2 separate regions of the Homo sapiens genome follow, and region 2 is linked to region 1. A link means that fine-mapping ties the variant in region 1 to the plasma level of a protein whose gene starts in the linked region. Region 1 holds a variant in brackets. A gene starts in the other region. All regions are shown on their forward strands.

Evidence for each region. A credible set is the group of variants that fine-mapping cannot tell apart. PIP is the posterior inclusion probability: the model's chance that the variant is causal. The UK Biobank Pharma Proteomics Project read protein levels with antibody pairs (Olink). The fine-mapping took linkage between variants from a reference panel, not from the people measured, so its PIPs are less certain.
Region 2: it holds the start of REG3A, and the variant in region 1 is the best candidate, but not a certain one, in a credible set for the plasma level of the REG3A protein (UK Biobank, PIP 0.73).

Annotation. Positions count from the first base shown.
Region 1 is chr6:41,708,235-41,724,379 of GRCh38, forward strand. The region is part of intron 1 of TFEB (transcription factor EB); the gene reads right to left. Among named protein-coding and RNA genes, the nearest start is that of MIR10398, 17 kb to the right of the region's middle. RefSeq lists enhancers at 4,569-5,294, 5,295-6,018, 8,099-8,148, 8,259-8,358, 8,599-8,658 and 3 more. The variant C/T (reference allele first, on the strand shown) is at 6,514.
Region 2 is chr2:79,145,565-79,160,499 of GRCh38, forward strand. REG3A (regenerating family member 3 alpha) reads right to left here and starts at 14,189. Exons shown (of 6, transcript NM_002580.3): 1 at 14,164-14,189; 2 at 13,766-13,875; 3 at 13,087-13,205; 4 at 12,762-12,899; 5 at 12,008-12,134; 6 at 11,442-11,729. The coding sequence starts at 13,841. The coding sequence ends at 11,662.

The DNA of each region.
Region 1 (16,145 bases):
CTGGCGACTGGGGAAGGGTCTGCCTGGGGAAGCCTCTTGGACATAGAAAGGGAGATGTGGGAAGAGGGCTTGGCAGACCCCCAGGGCTGGGCTTGATGAGGTGGCAAAAGCTATCAGGGCCCCAGCCACATGCTCTGGGCCCTCACGATGTCAAAAGTGCCCACCTGAAGATTTCCAGGTGCCAGCACCTGAATTGGTGCCTGAACCAATGAAGTTAGCTCCCTCCCTTCCCCACCACCTCTTAGCCAAAGACACCTATCACTTGACTGGGGAACTCTAAAGCATATTCTGCAGAGGCCTCCAATGGCAGTGAGCCTCAGATGCCCACAGTCACCTTGCTCCTTCACACACATTTTATCAGCTTCCTTGCCTTCCTGTCTCATGAATCCTACTCTACCACTGGTGCTCCCTGGGGGAGCCTCCCAAATAAACTGTTTGCACTCATATCCTTGCCTCACCCAATGGGCCCTGAGGAGGCAGTTATGACCTGATACTGAATAGCTAACTCTAAAGCTTAGAAATAGGGGCCAATAAAAGGGTCAGAGTAATGCAAGCTAGCCCACCCTACAGGGAAGGAGAGAGGCAGGTGTGAGCTAGGGGAAGACCAGTCACTGGGGAGACTGGTCAAGCTGGATGCAATGGCCAAATGTGTACTTGGAACTTCCCCACTTGGCGGAAGGTTAAGACTGCCCTCAGAAGGAGAGCTGGGATGGTAGAGAGAAGAAAACAGGACTTGCCAGAGTTGCAAGTTGCATGGAGAAGAAACCTCCATACCGGGGGTAGTGATGGCAACATTAGGTTGCTGGTAGCAAATGCCAGTAGGACTAGAAGCCCAGCATTGCCTTCTGCCCCCAGGCTGCTCCTAGGATAGAGCTATAGAGCTCCAGCATTCCAGAACCTTGGCATGCCTGTTCATTCAATAACACAGCTATTATGTTCCGCACTTAGAACTAGGCACTGGTGACACCAACAGAGGCCATTTGATTAAACACTAAGAGTGTGTGTTTTGAACCTAGTCAAGCTGAATCCCAGATCTGTCACTTTCTAGCTGTGTGACCTTCATCAACTTACTTAAATTCCCAGGGTCGCAGTATCCTCATGTGTAAAATTAGGACAATATCCACCCTGGAGAATTTCTGTAAGGATTAAACATAAAGTATCTAATGCAGTACCTGGCACAGGATAGGTGCTCAATAAATATTAGATGGATGCATGTATATAATGGATGGATGGACATAATGGATGCATGCATAAATGGATGGGTGGATGCATGAAAAAGTAGATATAATGGTTGGTGGATGGATGGATGGATGGATGGATGGATGGATGGATGGATATAATGGATGCATGCCTAAATGGACGGGTGGACAGATGAAAAGGTGGATATAATGGTGGGTGGATGGATGGATGGATGGATATAATGGATGAAAAGGTGGATATAATGGATAGATGTATGCATGGATAGATGGATGGATGTTTAAAAGGAGATGAAAAAGGCACTAGTTGTCTGCATCGTTCCCATCTGGTTCAATATCCCTTTCCATTAAATTTATTTTTTATTTTTATTTTTGAGACAGGGTCTCACTCTGTCATCCAGGCTGGAGTGCAGTGGCGCAACCACATCTCACTGCAGCTTCACCCTTCCAGGCTCAAACGATCCTCCCACCTCAGCCTCCCAAGTAGTTGAGACCACAAGTGTGTGCCACTATGCCCCCACTAATTTGTTTATTTTTTGTAGAGATGGGGGTCTCATTATGTTGCCCAGGCTAGTCTTGAACTCCTGGCCTCAAGCGATTCTCCTGCCTCAGCCTCCCAAAGTGCTGATCTTTCCACTAAATTTATAAACGAGAAAATAAGATTCCATCACTCCCTAATTTATCTATTTTGGAAATCTACATTTTCATTAAACAGGTTGACAAATATAAAGTAAGATCCTTCTAATGGGCCTTAGCCACATAACTGGGGCAGAGTCATTCCCTGAAGGATGTATAGAGTTACATCAGAATAGAGGATATCCTCCTGGCTCAGTTGCCTTCATACCAGCTCCCACCATGTGGTCATGCCATGCCAGTACCCATCTCTCAGCAAGTCCAACTCCACCCAACTCCTATTCCAGAGAAGGTGGGTCAGGGACCAGATAAAGGAAGGGGAAGCCAGGTAAAAGCACAGCAGGGACAACAGGCCAGGATGGCCAAGGAGAAGAAGCCAAGAACAGAATGCAGGGATTTGGGACAGGGGTAACTACGGATCAGAAAGAAGAGGCTGAAGAGCAGAGAGGATTTATTGTCTTTGGAGAAATGAAGAAAGAAAATATTCCTCAGAGAACAAGGGAGCAAAAACAAAATGAAACAGATGGAGCAACATAGAAAGACCATTTTTTTCCTGCTCCATCACCCCCAATTGCTCTCCACTACCTACCAGATAAAGTCCAAGCGCTCTAGTTGGGCCTCCAAAGCATGCAGGATCCCTCTCCCTAAACAAACACTGGGTGCAGCCAAGGGGACCTCCTTGCTCTCTCACGCCAACCCAATCTGGGCCCCCAGACCCTCCCCCAGTTCCTCTCCCACAGATTATCCAACTTCTCCTCCTCTCTGGAAGCCCTGCTCCAGGGTCTCCTCCTCCTCCCGACAGCACACCCTGACTTCACCCACCTCTAATCACCATTTGGGCACAATTACTTACTCTGTTCCAAGCCTGGTTCTGTGTCTGAAACAGGAATACAAGGATGAATAAGACAGCCCTTGCCCTATGGTTTTTACAATCCAGCTTGGAAAAAACATCATCACCTGATAGCATATATTGTATTTCTTCTACCACTATGGATAATACTAAAACTTGTATTGAGTTGTAAAACCATCTATCAAGGATGGCTTCTAAAGCCGTGATAGAGCCAGTGCCAGGCCCTTGGCTTTATCATGTATTAATTCATTTGGCCTTCCCAATAACACTAGGAAGTAGGAAATACTACTGTACTCATTTTACAAATGAGAAACAGGTACAAAGAAGTCACCTCTCTGGTTTTCTCAGCTGCAGTGTGAACTCCTTGAGGGCTGTCCCTTGGTTTCCTCCTCTCCCACACAGGCTCCAGGTAGAGGACACTCGGACATGGCCCTCTGGGCTCAACGTCCCCACCGCTGTGGCCTTAGGTGAAGGTGTGCTGACTGGTGGGTGGGAATGGTATACATGCAGGAAAATGAGCGCCAGCAGAATGGAGGAGACTGGCCTCCCAGGTGGGGTATGAAAGGACACAGTCTCGGTGTCCCCTTCCAGCATCTCTCTTCCCTGCCTGTCCCCAAGGTCCAGCCCTGGCATTTCACAATCCTGCAGTCACTGCAGAATTCCCTGTCCCTTTGCTAAGAGCGCTGAGGTGGTGTAGAAGGAGGGAGCCAGGCTTCATGCCCAAGACAGACAGGGGAACAAAAGGGTGGGCTGTTGGAGAAGGGAGGAGCCCTTCAGCTCCCCCAAGCCCCAGGGGGTCAAGCCTCTCTGAGTGAATAAGCCTAGCCTGGAAAGTAAAACACAGGGCAGGCCCCAAAAGGGTCATGTCTGGGCACCCTCACCTTGGCAGGGGGGTGGGGGAACATGGGCCTGCGGCAGAGGCAGGGCCCTCATGGCACCGAGCTGGGCTGCCCCCTTGGCAGGCTCACCCAGCTCAGAGGCCTCTTCAGGCTGGGAAAGCTGAGGAGGTGGATGGCTCAGACCCAACTTAGAATAGAACCATCATGAGGCATTGAGTGGGGTTCTGGGTTGGTGAAGGGGGCTTCGCACAGCCTATAGAGCTCAGCAGTGGGGGTCCAGTCCCCAGCCCCGGCCATACCTCACCTCAATATTTCTATCCCCTCCTAGAAGGCACAGTGGATGTACAGTGCAGGTAGAGCAGGGAAACTGAGGCACAGAGCCTGTCCTCCAGCTCTGGAAACCTGCTCTGCCTGTCTGGCCACCAGCACCATCCTTGAAAATGAACCCCCATGTTTCTCACAAGCACACAGGACTCCAAATCCTACCATTCCAGGGTCCTACAGGACTCCAGATCCTACCGTCTCAGGGTCCTCTTCTACCCTGGGGACATATATTTTCGAGAAAGAGGCTCCCCAAAGTGGGGCTGTGGAAAGAGGGCACCGTGCCTTTTCCTGAGTCCTGGTCTGGGATTGGGTGACGAGACCAGTAAGGGGCTCAGCCACAGCTCTGGGCTCCAACCCCGGCTCTGCTTCTCACTAGCCATGAGGCCTTGGGCAAGTTACTGAAGCCTCTCAGGGCCTCAGTTTCCTCCTCGGAGAACAGGACTAAGTCTCCCTGCTCTTGTCTCTCATAGTTGATAGTATCCAAAAGGTCCTGGTACCCCACCCAGGACTCATACCCTTAATCACTAGTCCTCCCTCTTCCTCCTCACCAGGGGCCCAAGGGCTCAAGCACTGGCAGGGGCTGCTGAGGAGCTGACGGAGCCACTGCTGTTGATAGAGCCGGTGCCAGGCCCTGGGCAGGCACGGGGCCCAGGCACACAATGGGGCTGTGTGTGCACCCAGCGTTACTCTGGAGTGGAGCTGGGCAGGCAGGCTGGCATCTGGGGTCAGGCCAAGAATTCATGTCTCTGGAGAAAGCCTCCCCACCCCCTCCCAGGCAGCACAGCTCTTTCCAGGGGTGAGCAAGCACCACCCACTCCCCCACCCGGCCTAGGAAGGGAATGGGAACTTGCTCTGGTGGCAGGTACTGGGAAATGGGGACTCCTGAGTCTAGCCACTGGCTGGGCTGCTCGCTTGCGAGGCATTTTGGACCTATTACGTAATCTGGGGTTGCAGCCTCCTCTTTGGCCAGAGGGAGGGTGAAGTCTGCGGGGGCCAGGAGAAGGAGCAAGAGAAGTCTGGCTGCGACCCCCACCCCATACAGAGGGCCTCAGTCCTCCCTCCCCAGCTTACCAGGGCCCTGGGCTCAGCACAGGTTTTCTGAGGCACCCAGGACTCCTGGCCACCCAGCCTGCACCAGGGTGCTGGGGTACCCCAGGAGAGGAGCTGGCTCACTCCCCAGGAGAATGAGTCACCAGCTGGCTGCAGCCAGGATGGCGAGGCGGGTGGTGGGCAGGTGGAGCTTGTCCTCTCCTGTCCCTGGCAGGTCTTCTCAAGCTGGAAAGCCACTCAGCTGGTATCAGTGCTGACCACAGCATCCCAGCCCAGGCCTCACTGGGCCACTTCTTCTGGTGCAGGGACCGTCTGGCCGCAGGATTCAGAGAGACTTGATCCCCTCCGGTCCCTACGCTGACTCACTCTTATAGCTGTAGGCATGGGCAGCCTACTCCTCTAATTGTCTCTGAGAGGGTGTCAGGCTGCAGGGAAGGGCAGCCACCTACCCCCAGGGAGAAACGCGGTCTGAGGCGAGGAAGGAGGGGAGAACTCAGGCACCTGGTGGGCAGCAGGGAAAGGCAGACAGCCAGGCCACCTTACTCCTCAGGCTGTGGCCAAAACAGGGAGGGCCCCTTTGCATGAATCATTTTCTATTCTCCCCAGAGCCAGGAGGCACCCAGGAACAGGAGCTAACTGGCCCTGCTCCCTGGCTGGCTAGACATGTGGCACCCTCCCTCACGCCCAGTCATAACGACACAGATAGGCGTCCTGATGCATGCCACCCACACTCCCTGAAGGTCATACACAAAGTCACTGTGGCAGCCCAGCCCAGTGGACACAGTTGGATGGCCACCCATCCCCTGACACCCACAGGAACCCCCCAGCCTGAGCTAGAGTGGGCCACACCACATCCTGTAGGCCCCAAACAGTGCTGAGTCTGGGAGCACCTCAGCTCCGAGGGCTCCTTCCTGGTCAGAGGGCAAGGACCTTTCCCAGCCAAGACCACTGCACTGAGTCCTGTGTGTGCGTGTGTGTGTGCACGTGTGTGTGTGTGTGCGTGTGCATGTGTGCGTGTGTGTGCATGTGCATGCGTGTGCATGTGTGCGTGTGTGTGCATGTGCATGCATGTGCGTGCATGTGCGTGCGTGTCTGTGTGTGTGCGTGTGTGTATGCATGTGCTTCTACCACCCCTACTCTGAGAAATCACTCCCATGCCCTGAGAAAAGAGACGGTGAGAACCAAAGGGCCTTCGGAACCTGAGCCCATCGTGTTTGTTTTCCAGATGAACAAACTGTAACTCACATTGGGGAAGTGTCTTTGTTCTAGATTATGAATAAGGCTGAATCTGGAACCCAGGCTGGGGTAGCTTATGGCTAGTCAGACAAAGCAGAGGATGGGGAAGAGGGAGCAGGGGCGAGAAGGAAGAAAAGGGAGGCGAGGGAAAATTCATCACCAGATCAGAGGTGCGGCCTTGATGGTATCATTCCATTCATTCATTTCAAATATTTCTTGAGCACTTACTACATGCCAGCACTCTGGCAGGGCCTTTCTGCCCATATCACCCCTCCCTCCTGTGAGACACTGCTTCTGAGACGGACTATTGTCTTCAGGGGACCCCCATCCCGAGGGTGCGGGGAGACTGGGGCAGCGCTGGAAGCTCTACCCTTGAGTGGCGGCC[C/T]GGCCCCAGAGAGGCCCTGGAGGCAGCCTCCTCTGCCCTCCACACCCCAAGGGACTCCAGCCCTCAGGGAATCCAGTGACCACAGCACTCCAGACCCTGATATACAGGTTGGCACTCCTCCGGGAGTCCATGCCAAGTCAGAGGGCACAAAATGTCAGACGACAAGGAGCCTGGGAGTCACCTACCAGAAAGTCCCAGGTTGATGTTAGCAGCAGCACTCCCATTTTCAGACAAAGTCGGCCTGGACCCTTGATATGTAAAACATGAGGATGAAGCCGCTCCATGGAGCACCAGGAGTCAGTGTGAGGAGCAGGAGAGCAGCATGGGGAGTGGGAGGACCACCCCACCTGGCCTCCAACCAGGGCCTCCCCCACGCTCCCAGATAGTACCCAAGGCACCTTCTGGGACTGTGACGAAGAATCTGAAAACCACAGTTTTCTCTGGCCTCTCCATGTTGCGGAAGTCTGGAGGAAGCAGGGAGTATGTGCGGACCACACAGCTTAGGGAGAGCTAGGACCACAGCCCTGGCCCTCCCAACTTCCAGGCCAAGCTGTTTCCCAAGACTCTCAAGACAACAGGACCCCATCCTCCACATGGGAAAGGGACACAGCAACACCCCCACTCCCAAAAAAGTCTCATGAGCCGGGCGCAGTGGCTGACACCTGTCATCCTAGCACTTTGGGAGGCTGAGGCGGGTGGATCACCTGAGGTCGGGAGTTCGAGACCAGCTTGACCAACATGGTGAAACCCCATCTCTACTAAAATTACAAAAATTAGCCGGGTGTGGTGGCGGATGCCTGTAATCCCAGCTACTCGGGAGACTGAGGCAGGAGAATCGCTTGAACCCAGGAGGCGGAGCTTGCAGTGAGCCGAGATCACGCTACTGCACTCCAGCCTGGGCGACAGAGCGAGAATCTGTCTCAATTAAGAAAAAAAAAAAAAAAGTCTCACGGATTCAGGTCCTCCCATGCTCCCAGTACAGGGCAAAAAGCTCCACGTACATCACGCCTATGACCCAGGTATTATCATTTCTTTCTTGTATATAAAGAAGTGGGCGTTCAGGAAGATTAAGTGACTCATCCAAGGTCACCCAACCTGTGAGTGGCAAAGCCCAGATTCCAACCCAGCACATAGCTCTTGACCCCCACTGCAGCCTTGCAGACATCACCACTGTCGTGGTGCCTGGCTATAACAACTTCCTCTGAGCCCCACTGCAAGCCTCATCTCACTCAAAGAAAAGCTGAGAGGTCTCCTACCCAACTCACCCCAACAGGATGTCACATACGGAGCTTCTCAGTAATATAGCACTACCACTGCTACTAATACCACCACCTCTCTATTATACAGCACTTTCTATTTAGGCAGTTCATACAGTATTATCTTACTTAATCCTCACAACACTACACTCCCATCTCCATCTCACAGAGGAGGAAACTGAGGCATACAGAGGTTGATGAGTTGCCCAAGTTTACACAGCTAGGAAAGAGCCGAGCTAGGATTCAACCCCAGGCAGTCTCACCCCAGTGGTACACCCCCTCCCTATAATGTCTGCTGGCTCCTCCTTCAGCGGTAGCTGTCACAAGCACCATAGTTTGGGGCTTGCCTCCCTCCTCTGAGGCCTCTCTGCAGGGGTCTGAGGCCAACTGGACCCCTGAGGGGTGGATGTGGGAAACCTATCTGATGAGCACCTTCAGCTCATCCTCTCCAGCTGTGGTAACACCATCCCCACCACCCACCCACTCACAGGAGCTAGAGCTGGAAGGATGAGATCCTGGGAGAGCAATCAACGCACAAGCATGAATAGGACACCTACTGCATGCCAAGCTTCAAGCTGTGGCAGGTGCAGGAAGTAGAAGATTCTGTCCTTGCTCTCCTGCCAGAGGCTCCAGTCCCCAGAAATGTCCAAAGGAGTAGCCCCTGCCACCCCCACCCCCTTTAGTGCTGGCTGCACCAGATGTTGGCAACACTTAGAAACAGGGCTAAAAATAGACTCTATAATGAGTCTGTGCTAAGAATAACTTGGGCAAACAGCCCTCCAGGAGAGGACACTCTCTGACAGGGAGCCACCACCTCCTCCCACCTCACAACCCAGCCTGGCCTACCCCCTGGCCCATCACTCAGAGTCCCCCACAGCTAGCAGAGGACCTGGAGCATTTCGAACCTAACTGCTGTGTTGATGGAGGCATCGGCATGCCCGCGTGCACCCTACATCACAAGCCAGGTGACCGGCCACCCTCCATGAAGGGTGGGGGCATCAAAGGACTGGGCAGAAGCTGGTGGGAACTCCCTGCTCCAGGCAGAGCTGTACTGAGGCACCAAGTCACTTGAGTTGTTTCCCCACTCTAACACCAACTCCCAGCAGGAAACTAGGAAAATAGGGCCCCCCAGCTCGAAAATCGTGCTTCATTTCATGTCTCACCTGTGACATGGGTCCCTCGAGTCAGCTAGACCGGCCCACTTCAGACATGTTCAGGGGAACTGAGAGCAGAGAGAGGCAGCAGTACACTGAAAAGCAGACATCAACTGTGGCCGGGGGAGGGGATCAGAACTTTAGGGCCCCAACCATGCTAGCTCCCACAGCCAGGGCCTCCTTTTCCCATGTCCTCACTGCCCCCAGAAATTATAAGAACTGTCAGACTCATGGATATCTGCATATGGATTGAAAATTAGTAGAGCACGTTCATGTATGATATCAGAGCTGAACTTCTCAAAAACTCCAGAAGACAGACAAGATGATGAGTTTCATTACACAACTGAGGAGAATGAGGCTCAGGAAATGGAATTAACTTGCTAGGGGCCCTGCAGCTGGGATGAAGCCTTATTGCCATCTATTAGTCTGAGAAGGATCTCCCAGCAGCCATAAACTAGGCATAGCTCCATCTCATAGCAATGCCCAGAAGGAAACAGACACCCTCTAATGCTGGGAGCAAGCAGGAGGGGGCCAGAAAAAGGTAAGGAGCTCTCAGGAGGAAACAGCAGCACACACAACACTTCTCTGAGGACAAAGGAAGAAGGAAGAGGAAGAGGTATCCTGGGCAGAGCACTGGCCATGGAGTCAGGAGCAAGGAGTCTGGCCCTAGCTCTGTAACAGGTAACTGCATAACCTGGGAAAATCCCTTCCTAAGTTTCATTCCAGGTCTTAGTTTCTCTATCTGGAAAATGGGGCTTTAAACACCAGGCCTTTGAGATACCCTAGAGTATATATCATGACCACATATTGGAGATGTACAACAAAAATTAGCATATCACAGGCTCTGACAAGCCCTACAGCAAAGAAAACCATTTGGGGTTTTGTGTAGTTGTATATATTTATGGAGTACAAGGTGATGCTATGATTTATGAGCACCATGTGGAATAATTAAATCAAGTTAATTAACATATACATCACCTCAAATACTTGTCATTTTGGGTGGTAAGAACATTTGAATTTTGGGGGTGTTTTTTTTTGTTGTTTTATTTTGTTTGTTTGTTTGTTTTTGGAGACAGGGTCTCGCTCTGTCACCCAGGCTAGAGTGCAGTGGAATGATCACAGCGCACTGCAGCCTCAACCTCCCAGGCTCAATTGATCGTCCCACCTCAGCCTCTCCCATAGCTGGGACTACAGGCATGCATCATCACACCCGGATAATTTTTGTATTTTTTTGTTTGTAGTAACAGGTTTCACCATGTTGCCCAGGCTGGTCTTGAACTCCTAGGCTGAAGTCTCCCGCCTCAGTCTCCCAAAGTGTTGGTATTACAAGCATGAGCCACCACACCCAGCCTAGAACATTTAAAATTAACTCTTAAATGATTTTGAAATATACAATAATTACTATTTACTATATTCACCATGCCGTACAATACATCTCAAGGAAAAAACTTATGCCCCCTGTTTGAGGTTTTGTACCCTTTGACTATCATCTCCCCATTCCCCCAACCCCTATTTTTCTTTTTTTTTTTTTCTTTGACTTACAGTCTCCTGTGCCTGCTTGACCTCTAAACCTTTCCACAGAAAACATCTTGGGAAACCCTGGAATAGATTTGGAGCCACCAACTCAAATGCCTGCAGGGGCCAACAGGAAACATGAAAGCCTGAAGCAGGCCCAAACACAATCCGTTGGGACCTGCGGTTGGCTGCAAACCCTAAAGAATTCCTGACAGCTCTGGAGATTCAAGTAGTCTAGCACAGGGGTCCCCAGTCCCCAGGCCACAGACCCATACTAATCCATGGCCGGTTAGGAACCAGACCACACAGCAGGAGGTGAGTGGTGGGCAGGCAGGCAGGTGAGCGAAGCTTCATCTATATTTGCAGCCACTCCCCATTGCTCACATTACCACCTGAGCTCCACCTCCTGTCAGATCAGCAGTGGCACTGGATTCTTATAGGAGTGCAAACCCTATTGTGCATTGTGCATGTGAGGGATCTAGGTTGCATGCTCCTTAGGAGAATCTAATGCCTGATGACCTGTCACTGTCTCCCATCACCCCCAGATGGGACCGTCTAGTGGCAGGAAAACAAGCTCAGGGCTCCCACCAATTGTACATTATGGTGAGTTGTATAATTATTTCATCATATATTACAATGTAATAATAATAGAAATAAAGTGCACAATAAATGTAATGCTCTTGAATGATCCTGAAACCCTCCCCTGCCATCCATCCATGGAAAAACTGTCTTCCACGAAACCAGTCCCTGGTGCCAAAAAGGTTGGGGACCGCTGGTCTACCACTTCTATTTCACTGAAGGTCTCCTTCAGGACCCATCCAACATCTTCAACAACCCTATTGAGAGGAGCAAGGAAGGGGTCAGTGCCCTGTGTCACACAACTGAGGAGACTGAGACCTAGGAGGCCAGACACCCGGCCCAGGGTCACACGGCAGTTACTGGCATGCAGGTCATGTGGCAGGTCCCATTTATTCGGCCCTTATTGTGTACTATGTACTTCTCAGTCTTTATCTCACATAGCTCTCACAACAACCCTTTGAGGAAGGCACAGAGGAAGAAACCAATGGTCAGAGAGATTCAGTCACTGTTTGAGGACCCACAGCTAGAAAGTGGCACTACCCAGATTTGAACTCTAGTATCCCGAATCCAGAACTCAGGCCCTCAGGCCAGCTCTCCCATTTACTAGCTAGGTAACCTTGGGTGAGAGATTTAACCTCTCTGGGCCTCAGCTTCCTGAGGCCCATTTTATTATCCCTGTAAAATGGGATAATAAAAAGACCTGCATTCGGTTGTTGTATAAAGTTTGCAAATATATAAAAGTGCTTAGCACAGCGCTGGCACACAGGAGTGCCAATATATGTGACCTGTCATTAAACACCACATTCTACTGTGGGAGCTCATGCCTGAGCCTCTGGGCTCTGTGCTCAGTGGGTTGGAAGCCACCCACAGCCTCCTGAAAACTGGCCCCTGCCAATCAGTCCTAGGTTACTGCCTCTCCACCTGCCACCACAGCCCCTTAAGCTGGGACTCCTGGGGTACTCAATGAAGAGTGGAGCTTTAGAGGTTGGGGGTTCCCAGATTTAGGCCAGATCTGGGTCTCATCATCTGAGGCCCCTACTGGGCTGCCTGCACTCAAAGCTGGGGATATCCCCAGCCTGCCATGGGTCACAGGCTTCTCCTCCCACTGCCCTAGGTCACAGGGTAGGGAGGCCAGGGGCTCTCCAGACAGGCAGCTGATGTCCTCATGACCTTCCCCAGTCCTCCCAGCCTTAAAGACGACAATCATAACCCACCCAGAGCTCTTCATACTTCCTGCAGCCGGTTCATCCACAATAGGTCACAAGATGGGCATCACCACCCAGGAGGCTGGCCGCTCAGGAGACAGTGTGCCTCCTTTACAGATGGAGAAACTGAGGTCCTGACTAGGCCAAGCACTTCCCAGGGCAGGGATCTAAATAGTGGGAAGTCTTCTGGCTTCTGGATAGGGCTCAAGCTGAGAGCCAGGTTGCAGGCCAGGCCCACGTGGGTCTCACCCATAGTGACTACAGATCCTGCAAGCTGGGGGAGGGGGCATCAGTAAGGCCGAGTCCTTCTCTACCCCACCCCACCCCAGCCAGGGAGACTGGCACAGCCCTCACCCATATATAATTATTCCATCATATATTACAATGTAATAATCATAGAAATAAAGTACACAATAAATGTAATGTTCTTGAATAATCCTGAGACCCCAACCTCCACCCAACCCCCTGCTCCAGCAAGCATGGGCAGCTCCTGCCAGGCCTGACCCTGCAGCCTTCCACTGACGGCAGCCTCCCACCTTTCCAGGTAGCTCTCCAGCCCCCAGCCCCAGCCCCCAGGACCCAGGCCAACCATTCACCCCAGGCATCACCCCCTCTCATCGTCCCCACCTGACACAGGGTCATCACCCAGGAATCCCTCTCTGACCACTCTGCTCCCTCCTCTGCTGACCCACAGTCTTGGTAACCACCTTGCTAAGAACTGGGCCCTGATTCTCCAGTCAGACCATGAGGTTTGCTGAGGACAGGCACCCTGGCCATAGCACTGCTGCTGCGCCTTATATTCAGTAGGTGCTCTATAAACATGGCACAGGAGGGACAGAATCTCTAATGCAGTGGCACCAAAGTTTTGGACCATGGCTCACAGAAAAATATACTTTATTTGACACTAGGCACACATACACACACACACACACACACACACACACACACGAAACATGTTCTACACAACAATGCTTACTGATACTGAGCAATACACTTGAATATTTTCTAGTCTCTTCTTTTTCATTAAAAAAAAATTCATGGAGACCCACCAAACTGATTTCATGGCTGAATTAGGGTCCAATTAGTGGCCCTGATCCACAATTTGAAAAACCTCCCTCCAAAAGTATCTGTGCAGCCCAACTATCTGCCTGGCGCGTGGCCCTCTCTACAACAGGCGCCTAATAATGGCATCCATCTGTCAGACACTTACTCCAGGCCAGACCTGTGCTAAGCATTTTACTATGGTGTCTTATTTCATCCTCACCATCACCCTAGGAGATAGGAACTGCTATCACCCCCATTTTAAATGTGGTGAAACTGAGGCCTGAGGCCAAACAGTAACTGGCTCAGACAGAGCTGAAAACCAGGCCTGTGTGAATCTGAAGCCAGATTCAGAACCACTGCACCCTCATGCCCACAGATGAGTGGCCTTCAACTGCTCTCTCAAGACTACACCCTGGCAGGGAGCTCACTCTCCTAGGAAGTCTCTTCCAACTCCAACTACTAATAAACCATTCCTTATATTATTATTATTATTATTAAGGCAGAGTCTCCCTCCGTCGTTCAGGCTGGAGTGCAGTGGTGCAATGTAGGCTCATTGAACCCCTTCGCCTCCTGGGTTCAAGCGATTCTCCTGCTTCAGCCACCCAAGTAGCTGGGATTACAGGCACATGCCACCATGCCCAGCTAATTTTTTGTATTTTAGTAGGGACGGGGTTTCACCATGTTGGCCAGGCTGGTCTCAAACTCCTGACCTCAGGGGACCCGCCCACCTCGGCCTCCCAAAGTGCTGGGATTACAGGCGTGAGCCACCGCACCTGGCTCCATTCGCTATATTAATTTAACTCTTTATAGCTGTGGGTTACTTTGATTACTTAATTGGGGATGGCACAGAGAAAAGAAAGGGCTCCCTGGCCAGAGCCCACAGGCTGCAAGGCCAGCCCTCACACCCCTCCCAGCAGACCCTCCATCCTCCTCCTCTCCCATACTTCTATTGGAACCCAGAAAAGGGGCAGGGGTGTGGGTGAGGGGCCCACCTGTGGGCTGAGTGGACCATTCTGCCATTCTCCCTCACTGATATAGCTGCCCTGGAGCAAGTCACTCTAGCCCCTGGGCCTACATGTCCCCATCTGCAAAATGGGAATGATAGCAGCATCCCCCTCATGGGGTGACTGAGGGTGAAGGGGCTGGTACAGATGAATCACTGGGCACAGTACCTGACATGGAATAAGGCCAGGTAAACATGAGCTCTTACTATCAATCTCAGTTCCAGCTCAAACTTCCACCATCAAAAATGATCGTCAGGAGCCCTGGGCAGTTTTTTGCCATCTGCACACAAACATGCTATGTCCTGGTGAAGTGTTAACCTGTGCAGGCACTTAGTGGGAGGCTGGCTCTATTCTGAGCACTTTATGTGAGTAAAGTCTTTTACTCTTCAGAACTCACAAGGTGGGCACTATAACTGTCATCTCCATGTTACAGATGAGGAAGCAGAGGAGGATAACTTGCCAGCATCATGAAACTGCAAAACGACAGGGCCAGGATTCAAGCAGGTGGATGTAGAGCATATGCTCCCAGCCCCTAATGTAAATGGGTATTCACTGTGGCCTGGCCAGTGACATGCTAAGCCCATCCTGCCCATGACCTTCTCACTCGACCCTTGAAATAAGCCTGGAGAGATGAGGAAACTGAAGCACAACTCTGGCTGACTCCTGATTTCCCACGCTGTCCAACCTGCACTCCAGAGCTTGGCCACCTTCTTCCCCATTCTTTCCCTCACCCCAGCCTTGGCCATGCTCAGAGACCCCCACCCCTCCCCAAAGACATCCCAATGCCAGTGCAGCCTGAGGGGCCTCATCCCTACCCACCCACCTCCCCAAAGACACCACACGCATGCACATACACTCACACAGATGCACACAGGCTAACACACATGGACACACATTCACACACATGCTCACACACATGCACACACTCACACACATGCACGCGTGTGCTCTCATACCTTCGAGAGGGCAGCCCCCTGGAAGGAGGCCCCTGGAATGCTCAGCTCCTCCAGGGGCCGGAGCCCAGGGCCGCACCCCAGCCCCAGGGCCGGGCTCAGTTTCCTCATTTCCCCGGCGGCTGCTGTTTCTCACCCAGCCCCCTGCACCTCAGCTGGAGAGGAAGTTGCACAATCCCCTGGGAGCTGCAAATGCGGCCGAGGATTACTCACAGCACAGAGGGAACTGCGCCCCGACGGCACAGTCCCACACCGCAGCCTACCCAACACAGACTGCTTCAATCTCACCCGCCCGGCTCCAGGCGCCCACAGCGCTCCTTGGTCCTCCCACAGGAGGCCTCTCATGGCCGCCCTGACCCCAGCCTGACCTCAGAGGGCCCTAGGCAGATGGAGAGACACAGAGCAGCAAGAATTTCGCCAGAGTCCCAATCCCACCAGGTCCAGGGTGGGCCTAACCCTAACCCCAGCCCCGCTTCCTAGAGACATGTGTCCTTCTAGCCAGAAGCCCCACAGCTCACCATCTTCCTGACTGGCCATACACCTGCAGTCTTGGCCTTGGGCCTTCCCAGGGCCTCCAGACACCCAGGTCGAGGCCGTACTACAGCCCACCTTGAAATGGAGCCTGAGATCAAGCAGAGCCCTGGGCAGCTCCGGGAAGATCCACACCACCGCACACTTTTCACTTGTGCAGAAACTGTTCTTGATACACATGCAAGTTCAGTGGTTCCTCAGCCCCCCAGCACTTTTTTAGCAGCCTGCCAAAGAGACTGGGCAGAGATTTCACTTAGTGCTTCTTTCTGGTGGCCAAGGGATTCCCATCGTTGATAAGCAAATACCCTGTATTAAGAAAGGTTAAGCTATTATCGGTCGTCTGCGTCTCAGGGTGGATGAGTTTACTGGGCCCTTTCGTGAGTGCAGGTTT
Region 2 (14,935 bases), not on the chromosome of region 1:
GTATTTTTAGTAGAGACAGAGTTTCACCCTGTTGGCCAGGCTGGTCTTGAACCCTGATCTCAGGTGATCTGCCCCCCTCGGCCTCCCAAAGTGCTGGGATTACAGGCATGAGCCACTGCATCCGGCCAGTACGTTCCTTTTATATCTAATTTTCTGACAGTTTTTTTTAAATATAAAATAAGGCTGAATGTTGTCAATTGCTTTTTCTGCATCTATTGGATAATCTTTTTTGTCCTTCATTTTAGTAACAATAATAAATGTAATTTATTATTATTTAGTAATAATCAATAAATGTTGCAAATTATTTATTGATTTGCATATGTTGAACCATTCTTGCATCCCAGGGATGAATCCCACTTGATCATTTTAATGTGCTGTTGAAAATAGTTTACTAGTATTTTGTTGAGGATTTTTGCATCTTATTTCATCAAGGATATTTGTCTTTAGTTTTATTTTCTTGTAGTGTCTTTCTCTGGCTTTGGTGTCAGAGTAATACTGGTCTCATAAAATGAGTTTAGAAGTATTCCCTCCTAGTTAATTTTTTGGAAGAGTTTGAGAAAGATTGGTATTAATTCTTTAAATAGAATTCAGACTTGAAGCCGTCCCATTCTGGGCTTTCCTTTGATGGAAGACTTTTTATTACTAATTACATCTTATTACTTGCCATTGATCTATGTATATTTTAGATTTCTCCATGGTTCAATCTTGTTTGGTTCTGTGTCTAGAAATCTATCAATTTATTCTAGGTTTTCCAATATGTATCAATAAGATACTTAGTTGCTTATAATACTCTTTAATGATCCTTTGAATTTCTGTGGTTTAAGTTGTAATGTCTCCTTTCTCATCTTCATTTTATTTGGGTCTTCTATTTTCTTAGTCTGGCTAAAAGTTTGTTAATTTAATTCACCTTTTCAAAAAAAAACAACTCTCATTCTCGATCTTTTCTATTCTTTTTCTAGTCTTTATTTCATTTATTTCTGCTCTAATCTTTATTATTTCTTTACTTCTACAAAATATTGGCTTATTTTTTCTTCTAGTTTCTCAAGGTGTACAGTCAAGTTGTTTATTTGAGATCTTTATTTTTAATGTAAGCATTTATTGCTATAAAATTCCCTTTTAGGACTGCTTTTGCTACATACCATAAGTTTAGTATGTTGTATATTCGTTTTCATTTGTCTCAAAATATTTTTCTAATACTAATTTAATTTTTTATTTCAGTAGCTTTAGTGGTACAATTGGCTTTCGCTTACATGGATGAATTATATAGTGGTGAAGTCTAAGATTTTAGTGCACGCATCACTCCAGTACTCTACCTCGAGTAGTGTACTCAATGGGTAGTTTTTCATCACTCATTCCCCTCCCCACCCTGAGTCTCCAATGTTTATTTTATCACTCTGTGTGCCTTTGGGTTCCCACAGCTTGGCTCCCAATTTTAAGTGAGAACATGCAATATTTGGTTTTTCATTCCTGAGTTACTTCACCTAGAGTGACAGCCTCCAGTTCCAACCAAGTTTCTGCAAAATACATTATTTTGTTCTTTTTTATGGCTAGTCAATTACCATTATTCCATGGTATATATGTGTGTGTGTGTATATATATATGGTATATGTCTGTGTGTGTCTGTATATGTATATGTATATATATGTATGCTACATTTTCTTTATCCATCTTTGGTTGATGGGCACATATCTTTGCAATTGTGAATTATGCTACAATAAACACATGCATGCTGGTGTTTTTTTGATATATAATCATTTTTGTATGTGGCTGGATACCCAGTAGTGGGACTGCTGGATCCCACCACTAATCTCACTTTTAATTTCTTCTCTGGTCCACTGGTTGCTTAGGATAATGTCATTTAATTTCTACATATTTGAATATTTTCCAATCTTTCTCTTTTTATTGATTTCTAGTATTGTACTATTTTGGGTGAAAATTATACTTGATATGATTTCAGTCGTTTAAAATTTGTTGAGCCTATGTTTATGGCCAAATATATGATCTCTCCAGAAGCATGTCCCATGTGCACTTGAGAAGAATGTTTATTATGCTCTTGTTGGAAGAAATGTTCTGTATGTCTGTCAGGTCCATTTGTCTGAAGTGTAGTTCAAGTCCGCTGTTTATTGAATTTTTTTCTGTCTGAATGACCTGCCCATTGTTGAAAGTGGGTACTGAATTATCCAACAAATATTGTATTACAATTTTTCTCTCTCTTCAGATCTATTGATATTTGCTTTATATATTTATGGGCTCCAATGATGTGTACACACATATTTAAAATTATTATATCCTCTTGCTGAATTGACTTCTTTATTATTATATAATGACCTTTGCCTCTCTTTAAAGTTTTTAACTTAAAGTCTATTTTATGTAATATAACTATAGCTACCACTGTTTTATTTTGGTATCATTTGCATGAAATATCTTAATTCTTTCACATGCAGCCTATGTGTGTTCTTAAAGCTAAAGTAAGTTTCTTGTAGGAACATTAAGTTGTGTGTTGGTATTTTTTTAAATTCATTTGATCACTCTATACCATTTGACTGGAGAATTTTACTCATTTACTTTTTGAATAATCATTAATAAGTAATTACTTACTACTGCCATTTTGTTCATTGTTCCCTGGTTGTTTTGTAGGTCCTTTGTTTCTTTCTTCCTCTCTTTCTCTCTTCTTTTTGACTAGATAATTTTCTCTTGTGGTATACTTTGGTTGCTTGCTTCTTATTATTTATCTATTATAGGTCTTTGCTTTGTGGTTACCATAAAGCTTACAAAAATATATTTATAATAGACTATTTTAAAAAGATAACTTGATCACATAAAAATATTTTACACTTTTGCTGTTGTTTGCACATTCTTGTTATTGGTGTCACAATTTACATGTTTCTTTATTGCATATTCCTTAACAATTATTGTAGTTACTGTTGTTTTTAATAGTTTTGTCTTTTATGCTAAAGATTTAAGTGATTTACCAACCATCACTACAATGTTAGAGTATTTCAAATTTTACTATGTACTTAACATAGTCAATTTATACTTTATACTTTCCTGTGTTTTTATGGTATCAGCTAGCATTTTTATCTTCCATCTTGAAGAAATTCTTTTAGTCTTTTACATAAAGAAGGTCTAGTGTTAATGAACTCTCTCAGCTTTTGTTTTTCTGGTAAACTTCCTCTCTTTTCATCGTTTCTGAAGGATAGGATTGCCAGGTATAGTGTTCTTGGTTTGCAGGGTTTTGTTTTGTTTTGTTTTTTCATTGAGTATGTTGAATATATTATCCCACTCTCTCCTGCCCTGAAAGGTACCTTCTGAAAAATCAACTGATAATCTTATAGACATTCGCTTGCACATAATATGTTATTTTTCTTTCGCTGCATTGAAAATTTTCTTTTCATCCCTGACTTTTTGGAATTTGATTGTAATGTGTCTCAGTGAAGATGTCTTTATATTTAATGTATGTGGAGTTTTTTGTACTTCATGGATGTAGATGTTCCTTTTTCTCACCAGTTATGGGAAGTTTTTCACAACCATTTTTTTCTTTCTTTTTTTAAAATCTTTTATTTCAGGTTCAAGAGTACATGTGCCAGTCTGTTATATAGGTAAATTGTATGTCACAGTGGTTTGGTGTATAGATTATTTTTTCATCCAGGTAATAAGCTTAATATCCAATAGGTGCTTTTCCAGTCCTTGCTCTCATTTCACCCCTCATCCTCAAGTAGGTTCCAGTGTGTGTTTTCTTCTTCTTGGTGGCCATCTGTAGTCAAACTTTAGCTCTCACTTATAAGTGATAACATACAGTATTTGGTTTTCTGTTCCTGTGTTAGTTGGTGGAGGATCATGGCCTCCAGCTCCATCCATGTTGCTGCAAACATGATTTTATTGTTTTTTATGGCTATGTAGTATTCCACTGTGTATATGTACCACATTCGCTTTATTTAGCCTACTGTTGATGGGCATTTAGGTTGATTCCATGTCTTTGCTATGTGAATAACAGTGTAATGAACATATATATGCATATATCTTTATGTTAGAATGATTTATATTCCTTTTGGTATATGCCCCATAATAGCATTGCTGGGTCAAATAGTAGTTCTGTTTTAACTTATCTGATAAATTTCCAAACTGCTTTCCACAGTGGCTGAACTAATTTACATTCCTACCAGAAGTGTATAAACATAGCCTATTCTCTGCAACCTTGCTAGCATCTGTTATTTTTTGACTTTTTAAAAACAGCCATGCTGACTGGTGTGAGATGGCATCTCACTGTGGTATTAATTTTCATTTATCTGATGATTAGTGATTTTGAGCATATTTATATGCTTCTTGGCTGTGTGTATATCTTCTTTCGAAAAGTGTCTGTTCATGTCCTTTGCACACGTTTTAATGCAGTTGTTCAGTTTTTGCTTGCTAATTTAAGATTTTTGTAGATTCTGGATATTAGACCAAACTATGTCAGATGCATAGTTTGCAAATGTTTTCTCCCATTCTGTAGGTTGTCTGTTTACTCTTTTGATAATTTCTTTTGTTGTTTAGAAGCTCTTTTCTTTAATTAGATCCCATTTGTCAATTTTTGTTTTTGTTGCAATTGCTTTTGGCATCTTCATCATGAAATCTTTGCAAGATCCTATGTCCAGAAGGGCATTTCCTAGGTTATCTTCCAGGATTTTATAGTTTTACATTTGACTCTTTAATCCATCTTGAGTTTACCTTTTAAAATAGTATAAAGAAGGGGTCCAGTTTCAATCATCTACATATGACTATCCAGTTATCCCAGCACCATTTATTGAATAGGAAGTCCTTTTCCCACTGCTTATTTTTGTCAACTTTGTTGAAGATCAGATGTTTGTAGGTATGTAGCATTATTTCTGGGATTTCTATTCTGTTCCTTTGGTCTATCTGTCTCTTTTTGTACTAGTACCATGCAGTTTGGGTTACTGTAGCCTTCTAGTATAATTTGAAGTTGGGCAATGTGATGCCTTCAGCTTTGTCCTTTTTGCTTAGGAATGCCTTGACTATTCGGGCTTTTTTGTTCCATATAAAGTTTAAAATAGTTTTTCTAATTCTGTGAAGAAAGTTTCCGGTAGTTTCTTATGAATAACATTAAATCTATAAATTGCCTTGGGCAGTATGGCCATTTTAACAATATTGATTTTTCCTATCAATGAGCCTGGAATGTTTTTTCATTTGTTTGTGTCATCTCTGATTTTTTTGAGCAGTGTTTGATAATTCTCCTTGTAGAGTTCTTTTGTCGCCCTGCTTATCTGTATTCTTAGGCATTTTATTCTTCTTATAACTATTGTGAATGGGATTGTGTTCTTGATTTGTCTCTCTGCTGGGATATTGTTGTTATATAGGAATCCTAGTGATTTTCTTTCATTGATTTTGTATCCTGAAACTTTGCTGAAGTTGTTCATCAGCTGAAGGAGCTTTTGGGCTGAGATAATGGGGTTTTCTAGATATAGAATAGTATCATATGCAAACAGGGATAGTTTGACTTTCTCTCACCCTATCTGGATGCCATTTATTTCCTTCTATTGCCTGATTGTTTTGGCCAGGACTTTCAGTAATATGTAGAATAGAAATGGGGAGAGAGGACTTTCTTGTCTTATTTCAGTTTTCAAGGGGAATGCATCCAGTTTTTGTCCATTCAGTACGATGTTTTCTATGGGTTTGTCATAGATGGCGCTTAAGGTTCTAAAGGATATTCCTTCAATGCCTACTTTGTTTAGGGTTTAAACACAAAGAGATGTTTAATTTTGTCTAAAGCCTTTCCTGCATATATAGATATGATGATGTGTTTTTTGTTTTTGGTTCTGTTTATGTGATAAATCAATTTATTGATTTAGATATGTTGAACCAACCTCACATTCTAAAGCCTAGTTGATTGTGGCTTTTTGGTGTGTTGCTGGATTTAGTTGGCTAGTATTTTGTTAAGGATTTTTGCATCAATGTTCATCAAGGATATTGGCCTGAAGTTGGATTTTTTGTTGTTGTTGTGTCTTTGTCAGATTTTCATATCAGGACAATGTTGGCCTCATAGAATGAGTTAGGAAGGAGTCTCCCCTCCTCAATTTTTTGGAATAGTTTTAGTAAGAATGGTGTCTTCTGCTCTTCTTTATACATCTCACAGAATTTGGCAGAAAATCTATCCTGCCCTGGGCTTTCTCTGGTTGGTAGGTATTTTATTAATGATTTAATTTCAGAACTCATTATTGGTCTGTTCAGGGATTCAATTTCTTCCTGGTTCAATCTTGGGAGGTTATATGCTTCCAAGAATTAAACCGTTTCTTCTAGGTCTTTCAACTTGTATGCACAGTGGTGTTCAAAGTAGTCGTCGAGGGTTTTTGTTTGTTTGTTTGCTTGTTTGCTTGTTTTTCCTGTGGTGTCAGTGGTAATGTCCCCTTTGTCATTTCTGATTGTGTTTATTTGGATCTTATCTTTTTTCTGTGTCAGTCTAGCCAGTGTTGTATCAGTCATATTTATTCTTTTAAATGACATATTCATGGATTTGTTGATCTTCTGTATGATTTTCACATCTCAGTTTCCTTCAGCTCAGGTCGGATTTTGGTTATTTCTTGTATCTGCTAGCTTTGGAGTTGGTTTGTTCTCACTTGTCTAATTCCTCTAAGTGTGATGTTAGATTGTTAACTTGAGATCTGTCTAACTTCTTGATGTGGGTGTTTAGTGCTATAAACTTCCCTCTTAACACTGCTTTAGCTGTGTGTGGGAGGTTCTGATATGTTGCATCTTTGTTCTCATTCATTTCAAAGAATTTCTTTATGCCTACCTTAATTTCATTATTTACCTCAAAGTCATTCAGGAGCAGGCTGTTTAATTTCCATGTAATTGTATGGTTTCAGGTGATTTTTTAGTAGGGATTTCTATTGTTATTGCACTGTGGTCGATCAAAGAGTGTGGTTGGTATGATTTCTGTTTTTGTTTTTATGTTGTTGTTTTTTTGAGCTTGCTGAGGATTGTTTTATGCTCAATTGTGTGGTCAATTTTAGAGAATGTGCTATGTGCCAATGAGAAAAATGTGTATTCTATTGTTTGAGAGTGAGGAGTTCTGTAGATGTCTACTAGATATGGTCAAGTGTTGAGTTCAGGTCCTGAATATCATCGTTAGTTTTCTGCTTCGATGATCTGTCTAATACTGCCAGTGGAGTATTGAAGTCTCTACTCTGATTGTGTGGTTATCTAATTCTCTTTGTAGGTCTCTAAGAACTTGCTTTATAAATCTGGGTGCTCCTGTATTGGGTATGTATATATTTAGGATAGTTAGGTCTTCATTTGAATGGAGCCCTTTACCACTGCATAATGCCCTTGTCTTTCAAAAATCTCTTGGTTTACAGTCTGTTTTGTCTGAAATTGGTATAGCAAACCTGGCTTTTTTTTTCTGTTTTTTGTTTGCATGGTAGATTTTTCTCCATCCCTTTACTTTGAGTCTAGTAGTGTCATTGCATGTGAGATGGGTCATTGCATATGAGAGGGGCATACCATTATGTCATGCTTGTTTTCCAACTTGCCACTCTGTACCTTTTAATTGGGGCATTTAGCCCATTTACATTCAAGGTTAGTATTGATGTATGCAGATTTGATCCTGTCATCATGTTGTTAGCTAGTTATTATGAAGACTTGTTTGTGTGGTTGCTTTATAGTGTCACTGGTCTATGTACTTAAGTATGTTTTTGTAGTAGCCAGTAATGGTCACTCCTTTCTGTATTTAGCACTCTTTTTAGGTTATTTTGTAAGGCAGGTCTGGAGGTAATAAATTCCTTTAGCATTTGATTATCTGAAAAGGATCTTATTTCTCCTTAGCTTATGAAGCTTAGTTTTCCTGGATATGAAATTCTTGTTTAGGATTTCTTTGCCTTAAGAATGCTGAATATAGGGCCCCAATCTCTTCTGGCTTGTAGGATTTCTGCTGACAACACTGCTGTTAGCCTGATGAGGTTCCCTTTGTAAGTGATCTACCCCTTCTCTCTAGCTACCTTTAACATTTTTTTCTTTCATTTCAGCCTTGGAGAGTCTGATGACTGTGTGGCTTGGGGATGGTTATCTTGTGTAGTCTCACAGGGGTTCTCTGCATTTCCTGAATTTAAAGTTTGCCCTCTCCAAGGAGGTTGGGGAAGTTTTCATGGATGATATTTTGAAATATGTTTTCCAAATTGCTTGCTTTCAATGAGTCATAAATTTGGTCTCTTTACATAATACCATAATTTTCAGAGGTTTTGTTTAATTTTCTTCAATCTTTTTTTAATTTCTAATATGTGTCTAAGTTATTTCAGAGAACTGTCTTTGAGATCTGAGATTCTTTCCTCAGCTTGATCAATTCTGCTGTTAATACTTGTGATTGTATTCTGAAATTTTTGAAATGAGTTTTTCACCTCTATCAGATCAGTTTGGTTCTTTCTTAAAATGACCATTTCATCTTTCATTTTCTGTATCGTTTTATTGTATAGAATCCTGGAAATGGATTTTCACTTTTGCCTGAAGCTCAATAATCTTGGTTCCTATCCATATTCCAAGATCTATTTCTGTCATTTCAGATATTTCAGACTGGTTAGGAACCATTGCTGGATAACTAGTGTAATTGTTTGGAGGTAAAAATAGACGCTGGCTTTTGGAGTTGCCAGAGTTCTTGCACTGGTTCTTTCTCATCTGTGTGGGCTGGCGTTCCTTTAATCTTTGAAGTTGCTGTTTTTTGGATGGATTGTGTGTGTGTGTGTGTGTGTGTGTGTGTGTGTGTGTTTATCCTTTTTGATGCCCTTGGGGGTTTGATTGTGGTATAAGGTGGGCTCAGTTGACTCACTTCATTTCTGGAAGATGTCAGTGGGCCAAGGTTCAGCTCAGCATTCCCCAATTCTGGAATGCTATTATCAGGCCCCTAGCTTTGTTCTCTCACCCCTCGAAGTTAGGAACCTGCTGTGCTGGGGGTCCAAAGGTGTTCCTGGATTGCTGGCCACAACACTCCAGTAAGTGGCAGTGACCACAGTACTCTGTCAGGGTGATAGCAGTGGGATCTGTGCTCATGCCACGGCAGTGGCAGCATGGCTGGGTGCATGCTCGTTGGCTGGGGTGAGGCACTGACAGGCATGGGGATGCCAAACCCCATGACCCATTATTTTTTATATATGTTTTCTGCCCATTTTCTGCCTCTGCTCCTTCTAGAAAACCCATAATATATATATTGGCTCAGTTGATCATGTACCATAGTTTCCTTAAGCTTTATTTTCTCTTTTTGTTTCTTTTTTCTTTTTGTTTCTCTGACTGGATAATTTCAAATGACTTGTCTCAAACTCACTGACTTTTTCTGCTGCTTGATCAAGTCTGCTGTTGAAATTCTCCATGCATTTCTTCAGTTCAGCCACTATGTGTTTTTTTTTAACTTTAAAACAAATCTCTTTCTTGACCTTCTGATTTTGTTCACATATTGTTTTTCTGATTTCATTTAGTTGTCTATCTGTATTCTCTTGTAGCTCACTGAGTTTCTTTTAGACAATTGCTTTAAATTATTTGTTGAGCAGTTTGTAAAATTCTTTCCCCTTAAGGTCAGTTACTAGTCCTTTATTTTGTTCTGTTGGTAATATCATATTTCCTTGATTGTTTATGATACTTGTGGTCATGTGTCTTTGGTGTTTGACTTTTTGAACAAGTAGTCACTTATTCCAGTTTTTACAGACTGGCTTTAGCAGACAAAGCCCTTCACCAGTCAGTCATCCAGAGATTCTGGGCAGGCCATCTGGCTTGGTCTTTGGGCAGGCTTGCTGCTGGCATCCTCAAGTGGACCTATTGACTTGGTATACCAGGGTAGGCAGTCACTTCATGAGGGCAGGCCCGAAGCCTCTAATCACAGGAGCCAGACTAAATCCTACTTCCTGGAGACCAATCTGGCTCTAAAGCAGGCCTTGAACCCATGTCTTCAGGGGTTAGCCAGGCACTAGGACAGATGTAGTATCTGAGTCTCTAGGACAGGTCTGGAGTTTGAGTCTGTGCATACTGGGCTGGTACCTGAAACTACAGGGGCTGGTATGGAGCCAGGGTTAGTGGGGGTGGCCTGTAGCCTGGGACCATGAATGTCAACTTGCCTCTGGGGTAAGTCTGGAGACTGGATTCATGGGGCTAAGGCTGGAGCCTGAGTCGGGGGGGCTGGCCTGGTGCTAAGGTCTACTGTAATGAAGCTTGATCCTGGGTCTGCTGGAGTATGAGGCCAGACTAGTACCGAGTCCACAGAGCCTCGCCTGGAACTGGGAAAATCCAGAACTTGTGTCTGTGGGGGCTGGCCTAGTGACAGAGGCCACAGAGGCTGGCCTAGCATCAGGGCTTTGTGCTCAGATGGACCTAAAGGCTTGGGGAGGGTTTGGGATTTGACAGGACCGTATCCTGCGACTGTGAGTGTCAGTCTGGAGCTGGGGTCTGCAAGTGCTGGCCTGAAGTTGTAGCTGTGGGAGCTATCCTGGAGCTGTGGTGGGTCTGAAGGGCAGGTCCACATGGGCAGGCCTGATGTCTAGGATTTCAGGGGTCACCCTGGAGTCTGTGGCTGCAAGTGCTAGCTTGTCCTTGAGGTGGGCTTAGAGTCTTTGTCAGTGGGTGCTGGCCTGTGGTCTGGAGCTATGGGGAAAAGCATGATGCTGTGTGTGTCTAGAGCCTGCATCTTCTGGGGCAAGACTGGAGGCTGCAGTCATGGGGGCTGACCTGGAGCCTGGGGTCACAGAGCCTGGGGCCACAGAGCCTGGCCTGGCATCAAGGCAGCCTGGAGTCTAAGTCCAAGGGTGTCTGCCTGGAGTCAGAGGCCACTGGGTCTTACTGAGGCAAACCTAGTGTTAGGGTCCATGGAAAACTCAAGTGCTTATTTCACTCTCTTTCCCCAAGTTTAGGGAATGTCTCTCCATGCTGTGCTTACTGAGATTGATGGAGGGGTGATATAAATAATGTAAAAGTCTTCTTTCTACCCTCTTCGATGCATCCTTTCTTATTTTTTGCAACATTCAGATGCTTTAATCACTCACTTGGGATTGTTAGCTCTTGTGAAGGTATTTCCATTTTAATGGGTAGTAGTTCAAATGAATGTTTCTGTGAAGGTTCAAGAGCTGGAAAGTCCTATCTACCATCCTGCTGATGCCATTCTCTGAGAAGTACTATTCTAAGCACCATCAGAGCCTCCTAAATCTGTTCATGTCACACTGTCAGGTTTGGGCTACGGGAATGGGAGGGCAGTAAGTACGCGGGAGAGAAATGTCCTCATCTCTCCACAACACAAATCCTACATGAGCAGGACCCACACCCTCATCATAACACACTGGTAGGGATGCACACTTCATCATTTTCCCTAGAGGCCTGGGTGAATAGGGAAGAAGCAAGACCCATAAAGTTTCCTCCACTCAAACACTTTGTCCTTCTCAGAGTATGGCTATGACACTGGCATATACAAGACAAACAAGTGCAGACTAAAAATTTTATTGCTCTTTAAAGCCTTAGGCCGTATGACAAAATGAAGAGACTGAAATGACAGCGGGGAGGAAGAAACAGAAGAAAGATAAGAATGAGGTGGTCAGGTTGGGGGAATTAAGCGAATATTCTCTTCCAGGGTGAGTCCTCACACTGGTCTCATGCCCATGATGAGTTGCACACCAAACACAGGCTGCTGACTTCCCTCCTGCACTAGTCAGTGAACTTGCAGACATAGGGTAACCTCACATTACAGTTATAATCTTTCCACCTCAGAAATGCTGGAGAGACAGAAGACATAAATGGAATGGGGCTGAGGAAGCTTGTGAATCCAATGAAGGGGCATCCCAGGTTTTAGCCTAGAAGTTAAAGCCTCTCCCTCACCTTCACCAGTGTCCCAATCCAGGAGAGAGATTCAAAGAAAGTGGAGAAGAGAGGAGATAAGAGAAGACACACTAACATTGTATTTTCTAGCTCAGGAAGATTTCCTGAAGGTCAGACCCAGGAATGGGGGATGAGATGGAAAACACTGGGAAGAGGCAGCTCCTCTGTTTCTTACCTGTGCTTCTCGACAGGCTCGCACAGTGGCCGGGGCTTGAGATGGTGGAGGGATTTCTCTCCCATGCAAAGTAATTCATCACATCACTGCTACTCCACTCCCAACCTTCTCCATTGGGCTCGGTGCCCTGTAGAGTAGAGGAGGTAGCCAGGTGAAGGGAATGGCCATTGCAGCTCTTCTTGCATGGCCCCTTAGCTGCAACACCTGATTTGCTCCCCAGCATGAGGAAAGTTGGTCTGCTATTCCAGATGCTGCCGGTGAGTAGGAAACTCTTCCTTGACTCCTCATTGCTATTGGAAAATTCCAGCCAATAAACATAAGACCTTTGGAACAACTCAAGGTAATATATTATTTGCAGAACAATAATTGATGTAGCATTTGTGATTAGCTTGTGAACCTCAAAAGTAATGTCAGTTCTGTATGGGGACAAAAATTGATCCTATCTTCATTAAGAGTTCCTTCAGAATAGTAGGCAAAGACTCCATGAAGCTCAGAGAATTGTTAACCCAGCCTCATATGAGAATTATGTAATACGCCTGAGGAAGGCAGATTGATTTTATCTGAAAGATAGAGACCTCCACAGAACTCAGATCTTCAGATGCTTCATGGCCTTCCCTTTCCCCCCAAATATTCCCCAGAATCTGAGCTCCAGTGCTCCCTGAAGTACTTCCTGGGCAGGCACAGGGGACAGGGAGTGGGCCTGGGCAACAATAGCACCTTGAGAGGTAACAGAGAGGGGAGGATATACTGGCACCTGTGTGGGGTCATGGAGCCCAATCCAGACGTATGAGTAGCTGTTACCAATGCTCTTCACCAGGGAGGACACGAAGGATCCCTCAGCCCCACTGAGCACAGACACCAGGTTTCCAGAGGGCCGCTTCTGGCAGGCCAGCTTTGAGGGCAACAAAGAGAATGAGAGGGAGCCTGAGACCTGCTGAGGGAGGGCAGGGCAAAGGTAGGTGGGAGGAGGACTGTGTGAAAGATAAACGTGTTCATCCTCATTCCCAAGGAACTCTCCTGAATGGAGACCCTCCTCCCCCTGAGACCGGTCACCTCCAACACCACATCTAACCACTCACATCTGCATCTGTCCAGGATTTTGGTGACAAAAACAAGGCATAGCAGTGGGAGCCATAGGCCTTGGAGCCTTTGGGACAGCGGATCCGTGCAGAGGGCAGTTCCCTCTGGGGTTCTTCACCTGAGGTGGAAGAAGAGGGGGGAGGGTAAAATGAAGAGTGGGGCTTGGGGTGGGAGATGACCTTGGGGAATACCTAGGAATGTCCTTGGGGAGGAAGACCACATTCCTGACACCCCTTCATCTTCCCTTATGTTTTCAGAAATTCTTTATCTCAAAATAGCCGTAGTAAATGGAGCACCATCCAGTCTCTTATTACCCTTTCCCCTTATTCAACCATTCAATACTCTCCTCACTCTGGGCTGTCTCTACATTGGGTCCTCCAATCATTGTCCCTCCCCACATCTCATTACTGACCCTCCAGTGTATATTAGAGTCCACTTTCCCACCAGTGTATATTAGAGTCCACTGACTAAATGGAAGCCATCTCATTCCACTGTTAGTGGACCACCATGGAGCCTCCCACTGCAAGTTAACCTGAAGGAAGGAGAGATGATGCAAGAACTGCAGGCAGGTTCATTAGACACCACGTCATTACCTCACATGACACACAGGAGCCTTCCTCCTCTTGTTAGCTCTGAGGATTCATAGGGAACCCAGTGCTAGAGGCAAAGCAATCTCACCTTGAACCTGAGACAGCAGCATGAGGCAGGAAAGCAGCATCCAAGATACACTGGGCAGGGCCATGGGAGGCAGCATAGTGTCTGCGACTTGAGGAGGCAATCAGGAGTCACTAAAGAAAGCGTGGTCAGTGGGAGAACACACAGATACCCCACTGCCTCATGTCATTTTCCTTCTCTAGTCCCCTAGGACTAAAGTGATCTTGGTCACATCCATCATCTTCTACAGTTCTGAATGAGTTGTGAATCTGTGTACTCTCCCATCCCCGAGCCCTCCCAGGACACCCTTGCTGAGTCTCAGAGTTCCTGTGCTCCCTGAGGAAGGGACCCTCCCATGTATTCTCCTGTGTCATGTGCAGTAGCTCCTCCCTGGGTCTCATCTTCTCTCAGCTCCCACTTACCTCTCTGGTGGGATATGGTATGGTTTGTCTGGTCAGGAAAGAGTGGGATTTTATAAGAGGATCTGGGGGAGGGACATTGGAGTGAAGAGTGACAATGAGTAGGCAGGACAGGGGTCATGGGGTGGGGTTGGCATGGACTCTTCCTGGCAAAGACTGGGGATTTTCCCAGATGTTGCCTCTTTCCTGTTGGCAGGCCAACACTTTCCCTAGGAAGAGGTGAAGTTTGCTTTTTCCTCTGCATCCTCCTTGTCAAAGGCCTGTGGCACCAAATGTGATATGAAATCTTCTAATGTGGACATCTGAAAGAGGAGTTCCTCTGGTGGGTTTCTTAAGAACCCACTTCTGGAGGCAAACCTATGTATTTCTTATTACCTTGCCTAGTAAGATTAAATAAATGTTAGGTGTTAAGTGAAGATTTACGGGAATTATAAGTATCATGGACAGTTGAGGACATAGATGGTACTGAAGCTAAGAGTAGGAGTGAGGGTTCAGGGCCATTATGCAAGCATGATAGCTAATTTTGATGAAACTTCAGAATTGTCTGACAAGTCAATACATGAGCCACAATCTTACAGAAAATCAGGTGAATGGACTTGTCTTTCCAGTCTTCAGCAAGAAAGAGCTTCCCCAGTGGAGAATGACAATGGCAATGTGATAGAATAAGAGGTAATGAAGGAAAACAAGACATAAGAAGGACTACAGTCAAATAATGAGGATCAAAGAAGAATGAATAATAGTTAAAGAAGGGAAGAGCAGCCATTGTGTAAAATCA